Regions from separate parts of the Homo sapiens genome. Here region 1 is linked to region 2. The links come from fine-mapping of genetic effects on plasma protein levels. Region 2 holds a variant in brackets. A gene starts in the other region. All regions are shown on their forward strands. Region 1 holds the start of FABP9 (fatty acid binding protein 9). Region 2 holds the start of NCCRP1 (NCCRP1, F-box associated domain containing).

Evidence for each region. PIP is the chance, under the fine-mapping model, that this variant and not a neighbour inherited with it causes the effect. Protein levels are from antibody-based Olink assays in UK Biobank. Linkage for the fine-mapping came from a reference panel and not from the study's own genotypes, which makes the PIPs less certain.
Region 1: FABP9 starts here. The variant in region 2 is fine-mapped to the plasma level of the FABP9 protein (UK Biobank, PIP above 0.99).

Annotation. Positions count from the first base shown.
Region 1 is chr8:81,458,640-81,463,971 of GRCh38, forward strand. It overlaps FABP9 (fatty acid binding protein 9), which reads right to left and starts at 2,940. Exons shown (of 4, transcript NM_001080526.2): 1 at 2,812-2,940; 2 at 526-698; 3 at 1-64. The coding sequence starts at 2,884. LOC101927118 (a long non-coding RNA gene) reads left to right here and starts at 2,819. Exons shown (of 9, transcript XR_001745980.2): 1 at 2,819-3,335.
Region 2 is chr19:39,193,576-39,198,927 of GRCh38, forward strand. It overlaps NCCRP1 (NCCRP1, F-box associated domain containing), which reads left to right and starts at 3,389. Exons shown (of 6, transcript NM_001001414.2): 1 at 3,389-3,744; 2 at 4,478-4,540; 3 at 4,627-4,678. The coding sequence starts at 3,408. The variant A/T (reference allele first, on the strand shown) is at 2,906.

The DNA of each region.
Region 1 (5,332 bases), not on the chromosome of region 2:
TTGTCTCTTTGCCAAGCCATTTTTGGACGTGAATCATTGAGCCATTCTCTAATGTTATGGTGCTCTATAAATGCATAAAGAAATCAGAAGTAGCAACTCACTACCTTCTAACCTACATGAGACCACATATCTACTTTTTAATTTCTATTTTGAAATTCTTTTCTTAAAATCCTCACTTTTGTTGTCATGATGTAGTACTATCAAACTAGAAGTCTCAAGAGATTATTCAATTAGTGCTCTTTCCTAGGCAAACAATGCATAAGCTATTTGTGTTTAGTTGTTTCTTTCTATGTGCTCTTTCATATGACAAAGAGATAAGAAAAAATGAAATGAAAACAATTTGAATCTTTTAGCCCTATTGTTAACCATCAAAATAATTAGCAAAAGGATTAACTTTAGAGATGTGCGACTATTAACAGAACAAGCCCAGACAGACTTGGTGATAAATCAAATTACAGTAAACCATGCCTAACCACCTTCTAACTTTTTCCTGATTGTTGAACACCAGGAAGAATTAGTTCTGACCTTTACTTTCCGGTTGTCTGCTGTAGTTTCATCAAATTCTTCCCCCAGCTTGAAGGAGATCTTAGTGTCCTGGAAAGAACTTTCTGTTCTTATGGTCATCATTTTCCCATCAACACTAATAGTTACTGTCGGTTTCACTAACCCTGCCATGTTCCGGGCTGCGAAATTCACTCCTACAAGACAGAGATAGCCTTGGACCTTATTAAGACATTGTTAACAATCACTCTGGAAGTCAATTTTCAAAGAATGCTTACTTTACCTATTTTGAAATTTTGGATAATGTATAGTAACTTATTTTATGTTTTCTGTGATATCAGGGCTGAGCTAGATCCTCCCAGTCATAAGGTATATATGTGACATTTTGAAAAGCTAAATTCACTCTCTGAGACTATTACACTTCCTCTAAAATGTAAATTTGTATGGTGCCTTTCAAGAGATCAAATGCTTGCACTTCACCTTGTGGAGTGTTACGATAACCTTGTGGGTGCGGGAGGAGTTTGACTTAGAGCCTGGCCCTGTGGTTTGGTTGGGAATTTCCCATTGTCAAACTTGACTCCTGCAGTTGGTGGGCAGAAGAGCTGACTCCTTCTCTGTCCTGATATCAAACTCCATTTCACATTTAGATTGTGGAACTGATATGACACATCTTACTGTAGAGAAGCAGTGTTAGACATCTGCATCACAAAGAAGAGTGAGATGGTTAAAACCCAGGCTCTAACTTGGCCACTTGCTAGCTTGGGCATATTATTTACCTCTCCTAACCTTCAGTTTTCTCAATAGTAAAGTGTGGATAACTGTATACTTGACCTCGCAAGTTTTTTTTTTGTTTGTTTGTTTGTTTGTTTTTTGTTTTGAGACAGAGTCTCGCTATGTTGCCCAGGCTGGAGTGCAGTGGCACAATCTCAGCTCACTGCAACCTCTGCCTCCCAAGTTCAAGCGATTCTCCTGCCTCAGCCCCCCGAGTAGCTGGGATTACAGGCACATGCCACCATGCCCAGCTAATTTTTGTATTTTTAGTAGAGATGGGGTTTCACCATGTTGGCCAGGCTGATCTCGAACTCCTGACCTCAGGTGATCCACCTGCCTTGGCCTCCCAAAGTGCTGGGATTGGAGGCCTGAGCCACTGTACCCAGCCAGCGGATGTTTTAAAAGGTTAAATGAAAGGGGTTAGCATGGTACTGGCACATAGAAACTGCTCAGCTGTTATTCTTGCTTGTATTATGCCTAAACCCAGCTCCCAGTCAACACAAGTGCTACTCTGGCCATAAGGCCCAAGTTTTTTATATACCCCCCCAATTTTTATTCAAAACAAGTGAGTCTATAAATCTATGAAGAGACAGAAAAACTTGTTTCTTATGACCCTCTGAGAAAGTGAATATTGACTACATCAGAGGAACAAATATTACATTTATAAGCACATTGACTTATTATGGGGATAAGGCATTGTTATTTCATTGTCTAGAATGAGTAAACATAATTAATAATTGTAAGCATCCATTAAGCATGTTATGTAAGTTAAAAAAAAGTAAAGATAAGAAAGTCCTTGGCTTTGTATACAGTTTACTACAAGGGAGGTTTCTCTTAATTAAATATGAAAAATATGAAATAATTGCTGTTCTTCCATTAGTAAAGAACAGTTTAGCTATTATACACCCAAGTCATTATAATTAATGTGTAACTAAATGACTTGAGTTAGAGATTAAAGGATTGGTAGGGTTTATAATTCTGAGGAATATCCAGTGGTGAGACATTCAATGAGTAAAAATGTTGTGTTTCTTCAGATTTGTAATTCTTCAAAACCATGTTTATAAAATATCTCTCACATTTATGAGAACTCTAAAAATTAACCAACTAGAAATTTTGTTAGTTGATACTGCTGTTTTAAAGCTATAACTTAAACCTTGAAACAAATTTAATTGATCAATTTAATTGTAGGTAGTGATTACTGTCTATAAATTTGAAGCTGGGAAAAATGTTATTAAATGAAATGACCAAGCTAAAATGAAATTCTATCTAGAAGTTAGGTGAAGTATTTTCAAAAAGGATAAATGGGCTTAAATATATGGATCATGACTGGACAGAGGTGTCTGTGGGCCTAGTCTTCCAAAAAGAGACAATTATTACTAGTAATTTAAAAAAGCAAAAGTAGAAGCATACATTGTGTTAGTCTATATACCCTAGGATCACAAAAGGAAGATAATTGTAGGAAAATTCATGGTAAAGTACAAACCCAATCACATCACAAAATGCTTTGCCAATTTCCAAATTTGTAATGGTATTTCTCACCCAGTTCTTTCATGTAATCCTCAAAGTTTTCACTGGAGACCAGCTTCCAGGTTCCCAAGAAGGGCTCAACCATCATGGAACACTTGCTGAGAAGAGCCACTCGTAATTGAAAACCAAAGAAATATAGGCATTACGGTGCTGCCAGTAGTTTAATTTAAAGAGCGTCTTCATCACGTGACTCTTCTGAAATGGCCAATGGGCAACAGCAGCAAGACTAAAGATTCTAGGCACCAGCATTTGACTCATTTTATTTACCTCCAAATTAAGAGACAGAAAATTAGCATGTAAAATTAAATTCTGGTCAATGATTTTAGCTTCTAGCAAAAAGATTTACACCCAAGTCACCTGACAAATATTACTTGTGGAACGGAGACAATCTTCAATAGACATCAGCTTTTTGAACAATGAATACTGAGTCAACCCTGGAGGAATATCCTGACAAATTGATAAACACCTGGCTGAGATGTTTTCCTACCTAAGACAAGAAATCCTTGCTTGGTCCACCTCAGCTGTTTTTTGTTTGGGTAAGTCACAGTGCTCAAACATCCTCTTCATTAAAATAATATCTTCCCTTCCCTTCCTTACAGGGTTGATGGGTTGATATTAGTTAATGTAACTAAAATGCCTATAATTGCTTGGAGGGAAATGGAGGGTATTATTAATATATTATCATTGTTGTTAATCGAAGGTAATTGAGGACAGGAAAGAAAGGTGACAATTATCATTGGATAATAGTATATGATTTAAGCTCTGAAAAGGAAGCAGAGCGAATGCCTACAAAATTCGTCTTTCAGGCTTACAAAGTAAACTCTACATTAAAAGATATTTTAAATTATAAGAAAAAATTTTGGCAAGTTTCATATAGAAAAAGATGTTTGGAATCTGCATTCTAAAAGAAAGACAAAGGCAGCAAATGGTTTCAATCTCTGTGCCATTACTTCTGAAACCATCTTCTGCAACCCCAATAATGGAAGTGGACTTTGCAGGTACTGAGTTTAGTAAGAAGGAGTAGATTCAGTAGCTGTTGATTTACATTACGGTTTTGAACTCCAGTTAACTTTAGAAGATGTTGGAAAGTTAGTGTCAGGGACCAGAAGAAGAATATTTATATTTTTACCTGCTTTGTATGAAGTATTTATTTAATTCAGAAAATATTGTTTGTGAACAAAATAAACAGGAGGTTGATATTTTGGTACTGTAAAACAATAACTTAAGTGGAATAAAGGATGGCTTTTGATGAAAACATATAAAGAAGAAACATATAATGTGATATCTTTATGGGTGGGACAATTATTAAATTATCTACAGTGCAAAACAGGGTAAGTGAAAATCCTGGAGTTAATTTCAGGAAACTAAGACCCAAGCTCAAAATAAGTGCCTCAGCAGTTGAAAGTGCATTCAGAGGTGATGTTCAAATATAGAGCAAGTTGTTAAACGTTTGCTTAACTGGTTCGAGATGTGTATGCACTCTCTGCTTTAAAGAAAGCAAGCATACATTGCTATGCCTGTTGGCCAGCTGGGTAGTGTAGCAAAGGTCTCCCATCAGCATAATCTTCCTTGTTGTTTTGATTCTCCTGTCATAGAATGATATTCCTGTGGTCCGTTTAGAACTCAGTTGGCCCATGAGACAAAAGCTAACATCAGATTTCTGGTTTCAATTATCCTCAGCAAACTAACGCAGGAAGAGAAAAACACCTCATGTTCTCACTTATAAGTGGGAGCTGAACAGTAAGAACACATGGACACAAGGAGGAGAACAATGCACACTGGAGCCTGTTGGGGCCAGGGCTATGGGGGGAGGGAGAGCATCAGGATAAATAGCTAATGCATGTGGGGCTTAATACCTACGTGATGGGTTGATAGGTGCAGCAAACCACCATGGCACACATTTACTTATATAACAAACCTGTACGTTCTGCACATGTATCCCAGAACTTAAAATAAAATAAAATAAAAATTCTGGCTTCTGTAAAATTCCCCACCCCTAGGAGAGAACCAAAGGGAGAGACAGTCTCTCTTTTGCCTCTACACATTTTTCTATCTCACGTGATATTTACAAGTGCTGCATCCATTGTGTTACCTCCTCAAAGATGGGGCCAGAACTGAGGATAGCAGAGCAGAAACGTGGAAGGAACTGAAGGCCACTTTATTTCAAAAATTTATATTATGTTAGTTAATAAATTCCATTCTTATTTAAACAGTTTTGTCTCTGAGCTTTTGTTACTTGTAGAAGAAGTCTTCATAATTACTACGCCTTTGTAAATAGCTTCACCAAATGGTGAATTTGGACCTTCACAACAACCAGTTGCATGAATCACATAGAGCTGGCCTCATGACAGCAGAGACCCATCTTCCTGAACCAACTCAAACATCTCTTTCCCTGTGACACTGGTTCAGAGCTAGATAATCCCCATGGCGTGAAGATAGAAATAAATGTTTAAGAGAAGTATATTAGCTTATTTCATAGTACTGCAAAGAGCTATTTCCCAGCTGTCTCCTGAGCTATTCTATGAGTATATCA
Region 2 (5,352 bases):
TGAGACAGGGTCTCGCTCCATCACCCAGGCTGCAGTGCAGTGGCGGCGCCATCTCAGATCACTGCAACCTCCACCTCCCAGGCTCAAACAATCCTCCTGCCTCATCCTCCCAAGTAGCTGGGACTACAGGCATGTGCCACCACGCCTGGCTAACGAGGTCTCACCACGTTGCCCAGGCTGGTATCCAACTCCTAGGCTCAAGTGATCTGCCCGCCTCAGCTTCCCAAAGTGCTGAGATTACAGGCACAAGCCACCGCATCCAGCCACTCTACAGACTCCTGGCTGCCCTTCTGTCCTAGTCTCCTCCGGCTCCCAGCCACTCCCTGCCCTGGATTCTGACCTGGGCACAGCTCTGACTACACTCACCAGACACCCCTCCTTCTCCTTCTCCTCCTCCCCCATGGCGATGACAGGTCTCAGGCAGGGAGGGTGGGCAGCCAGGACAAGGGCGTGGGTTTGTGTGCGTGTGGTGGTGGTGGGAGTGTCTGGTCGTGCGTGTGTTGTGAGCTCTGCCAGTGTTTGCCTGGGAATCTGCTGGGGACTTCCAGGTGCAGTATTTGTTGATCTGCTCCCTCCCCTGGTTTTTCCCCACCCGCTGGGCACTGGTTAATTCCCAACTTTCCAGGGCAGTCACTTCACCTCTCTTGCCTCAGTTCCCTGATCTGTCAATAGAGATACAATTACCAGTTCCCAACTCTGCAGGGTTGTGAGGTTCAAAGAGTCCAAGACTCAATAAATGTAACCATCATCTCCTGCTTGCTTCTGTATGAGCCCATGTTTCTTCCCAGGGGCGATTTGTTTTTTGTTTTGTTTTGTTTTTGAGATGGAGTCTTGCTCTGTTGCCCAGCCTGGAGTGCAGTGGCACGATCTCAGTTCACTGCAACCTCTGCCTCCTGGATTCAAGCGATTCTCCGGCCTCAGCCTCCCGAGTAGCTGGGACTACAGGCACGCACCACCATGCCCAGCTAATTTTTTTTTTTTTTGTATTTTTTTTTTTTTTTAGTAGAGATGGGGGTTTCACCATGTTAGCCAGGCTGGTCTTGAACTCCTGACCTCAAGTGATCCGCCTGCCTTGGCCTCCCAAAGTGCTAAGATTACAGGTGTGAGCCACTGCGCCTGGCCTGTTTTTGTTTTTTGTTTCTTTGAGACAGGATCTCATTCTGTCACCCAGGCTAAAATGCAGTGATGCGATCTCAGGTCACTGCAACTTTGACCTCCTGGGCTCAAGCGATCCTCCCACCTCAGCCTCTTGAGTAGCTGGGACCACAGGTGTGTTCCACCAAACTGAGATAATTTATTAATTTTTTTGTAGAGATGGGGTCTTGCCATGTTGCCCAGGCTGGTCTCAAACTCGTGGGTTCAAGTGATCTTCCTGCCTCAGCCTCCCAAAGTGTTAGATTACCGGTGTGAGCCACCACACTCAGCCCTTGGGGGCAATTTGAATCTGTGTCCCTGTGTATGTTCTCTAAGATTCTGTATGCGAGTGTGTCTAACTCGTTGTGTACCAGCTGTGCAACCTTGGGTGAGTTACTAGACCTCTCTGTGCCTAGTTTCTTCATCTGCTAAATGCACATGACTTCCTAGTCATGCTACTTCCTAGGGTGGATGTGGAGACTGAATTAATTGCCTAATTAATTACCTAAGTCCATTGCAACTAATGGACTTAGTGCAATGCCTGGCATGAGGGCAGCCTCAATTACATGATCATTATCACTGGGGCGTGACTTCTGTCCCCCACCCGCTGAGTGTCTGTGAGTGTCTGAGCGTTGGGGCAGGAAGTGCCTGTGAAAGCATGTGGAGTTATCTGGGACTATATGGGACCCAGCCTGGGAAGGCAGCTTCTGTTTCCATGGCACCCCTCACAGGGTTGTTGTATTGGAAAGACCCGTCCCAGAGGGCATCCGCCAGCACACAGCTGCACACACATGTTTGCTGTTACTTTTCCTTTACCTATAAAATGCCAGTCATAGTAGCACCCACCTTGTCTTTGTAGGAGAATGAAATGAACTTAGAGGCGCTCAGTAGAAAGCACTCACGCCTGTAATCCCAGCACTTTGGGAGGCCAAGGCAGGTGGATCACTTGAGGTCAGGAGTTTGAGACCAGTCTGATCAAGAGGGTGAAACCTCGTCTCTTCTAAAACTACAAAATTAGCTGGGTGTGGTGGCACATGCCTGTAATCCCAGCTACTCGGGAGGCTGAGGCAGGAGAATCACTTCAACCCGGGAGGCGGAGGTTGCAGTGAGCTGAGATCGTGCTTCTGCACTTCAGCCTGGGTGACAGAGTGAGACTCCATCAGAGAGAGAGAGAGAGAGAGAAGCAAGCGCTCAGTGCTGAGCTTACCTGGGCCAGGTAGAGGGATGTGGCCACGGGCAGGAAGTGGCTGTGGGAATCTGGCGCTACAGGTTCCTCTGCCACCCCACTTCCTCCACACCTGACCTCCTGTCCCCACCTGTGCCCCGTCCCTTGCTCCCACCTCCTCGTGACCTCTGATGGGGGAGGCTTCTGCAGCCCCCCACCCCAGTCCCAGGCAGGGGTGCAGGCCCCCAGAACACCCAGTTGGGATCACTGCTTCCCTCTCACTGCCATCTTTGTGCCTCCCTGGGGTCCCCCATCTCTGAGGCTCCTCATCTCTGGTTTTGGGTGTCTCTCTGCTCTCCTCACCTTGGTTTTCTGGACAGTATGTGTCAGGGCCCCAAGGGGGTGTCCCAGGTGAGGACAGAGAAGGAAGTGGCAGAGGCAGGACCTTCCCTTTGCACCTCAGCTCATCCATCCACTCCCCCTCTGCAGAGTGGGGAGGGGGAGGAGGGGGGTCTTCGTTAATTAGCCTCTTAATCCTGCCATGCTGGATCTTAATGAGGTGCACGGGTCCCATTAGACAGCCCGGAGCCCTGGCATTAGCACATT[A/T]GTCACACGCTCTGTCAGGCTCACGCTGGGTCCTCAGCTGGCCCTGGGAAAATTGGGGCAGGAAGTCTGGGGACCTAAGGAGGGGGCTGGTGCCTGGACTTCTGGGTCTGAAGAAGGAGGGGCTGGTGCCTGGACTCCTGGATCTGAGGGAGGACGGACTGGGGGCCTGGATTCCTGGGTCTGCGGGAAGAGGGGCTGGTGCCTGGACTCCTGGGTCTGAGGGAGGAGGGGCTGGGGTCTTGAATTCCTGGGTCTGAGGGAGGAGGGGCTAGGGGCCTGGACTCCTGGGTCTGAGGGAGGAGGGGCTGGGGTCTTGAATTCCTGGGTCTGAGGGAGGAGGGGCTAGGGGCCTGGACTCCTGGGTCTGAGGGAGGAGGGTCCGAGGGACAAGATCCTCCCCCGACACGCCCCTCTCTTAAATGTCAGCCAGGGTGCCCTGCCCCTTCCCGCTCCCAGTTAACCCCAGCCCTGTGAAACCGGGACAGTCGCGCAGCCTCGAGGGATGGAGGAGGTGCGTGAGGGACACGCGCTCGGTGGCGGGATGGAAGCCGATGGGCCCGCGAGCCTCCAGGAGCTGCCTCCCTCGCCACGGTCGCCTTCACCGCCGCCGTCGCCGCCACCACTGCCCTCGCCGCCGTCGCTGCCATCGCCCGCAGCCCCGGAGGCCCCCGAGCTCCCCGAGCCGGCGCAGCCGTCCGAGGCTCACGCCCGGCAGCTGCTGCTGGAGGAGTGGGGGCCGCTGAGCGGGGGCCTGGAGCTGCCCCAGCGCCTCACCTGGAAGCTGCTCCTGTTGCGGCGGCCGCTCTACCGCAACCTGCTGCGCTCGCCCAACCCCGAAGGTGCGCAAGGGCCCAGAGCAGCCAGGAGGCACCACCCTGACCGTCTGTCTCTTCCTCTTTCCCTGTTTCCTTATCTCTCTACCTCTTTGTCTCTCTCTGTCTATGCATTTCTCTGCATCCCTCTGTCTCTTTTTCTGTCATTGTGCCTCTCCATTTTACCACCTGTCTCTCTGTCATGTCTCTTACCTACCTCTCTCACACCTCTCCCTCACACCTCTCCATCTCTCTTTCTCTCTCCTCCTCTCTCTCTCCCCCTCTGCCTATGTTTCTGTCTCTTGAGACGGAGTCTTGCTGTCGCCCAGGCTGGAATGCAGTGGTGCAATCTCAGCTCACTGCAACCTCCGCCTCCCAGGCTCAGGCAATTCTCCTGCCTCAGTCTCCCGAGTAGCTGGGATTACAGGCATGCACCACCATGCCTGGCTAATTTTTGTATTTTTAGTAGACACAGGGTTTCGTCATGTTGGCCAGGCTGGGCTGGTTTCAAACTCTTGGCCTGTCTCTTTCTCTGGGTTCTTCTCTCTGTCCCTCTGTCTCTGTCTGTCTCACCACACCCCACTTACCCCTGGCATTGCCCTCTCCCCAGCCCAGAGCCCTGACTCACTCATCCCTGCCGGGCTTCCCTGACCTGGCACAGATTCCTGCCCTTCCAGTGTATAGCCCTGCGGGTAGGGAGGGGTGAGGCGGTGGAAGATGGAGGGGCTGCCCAGAGGCTCCACTCACCTGTCCATTTCAGGCATCAACATTTATGAGCCAGCACCCCCTACTGGTCCCACCCAGCGACCCCTGGAAACTCTGGGTAAGTGCTTGGAGGGCCAGGTTGCTGAGGGTGGGGAGGGTCCTCCAGCGTTGGGGTGTCCTAACCCTTTGCTCCCCAACCTGCAGGCAATTTCCGTGGCTGGTACATTAGAACTGAAAAGCTCCAGCAGAACCAAAGGTGAGTCGCCAGGGCCAGTGTGGCTTACACTCCATTCCCTGCTCCACCCTTCCTCACTGTGAGACCTGGAGAAACTGACTTGGCCTCTCTGGACCTCCATTTCCTGCTCTGTAAACAGGGTTAGCATAAGAGAGAATGCTTGTAAAACACACAGCATAGGGCCCGGCCAGGTCTGGCTAGCACCAGTCAATAGCAGCTATTATTGGTTTTTGGTTTTTGTTTTTAAGATGAAGTCTCACTCTGTTGCCCAGACTGGAGTGCAGTGACGCAATCTCAGCTCACTGCAACCTCTGCCTCCCAGGTTCATGCAATTCTCCTGCCTCAGCCTCCTGAGTAGCTAGGATTATAGGTGTGCGCCATCATGCCCAGCTCATTTTGTATTTTTAGTAGAGACGGAGTTTCACCATGTTGGCCAGGCTGGTCTCGAACTCCTCACCTCAAGTGATCTGCCTGCCTCAGCCTCCCAAAGTGCTCAGATTACAGGCATGAGCCACCGCGCCTGGCTATTCTTGTTATTGTTGTAATTATTCTAAGGCTCTTTCCCTGGGAGGGGAAGAGTCACCCCAGGCCCCTGTCCTCCATGAAACAGAGCCTTGCTCCTGCACAGTAGATGAGCTGGTGTGACTTGGAGGCTCAGGGTCACACAGGCCAGGGTTGGGATCCTGGCTCTGCCA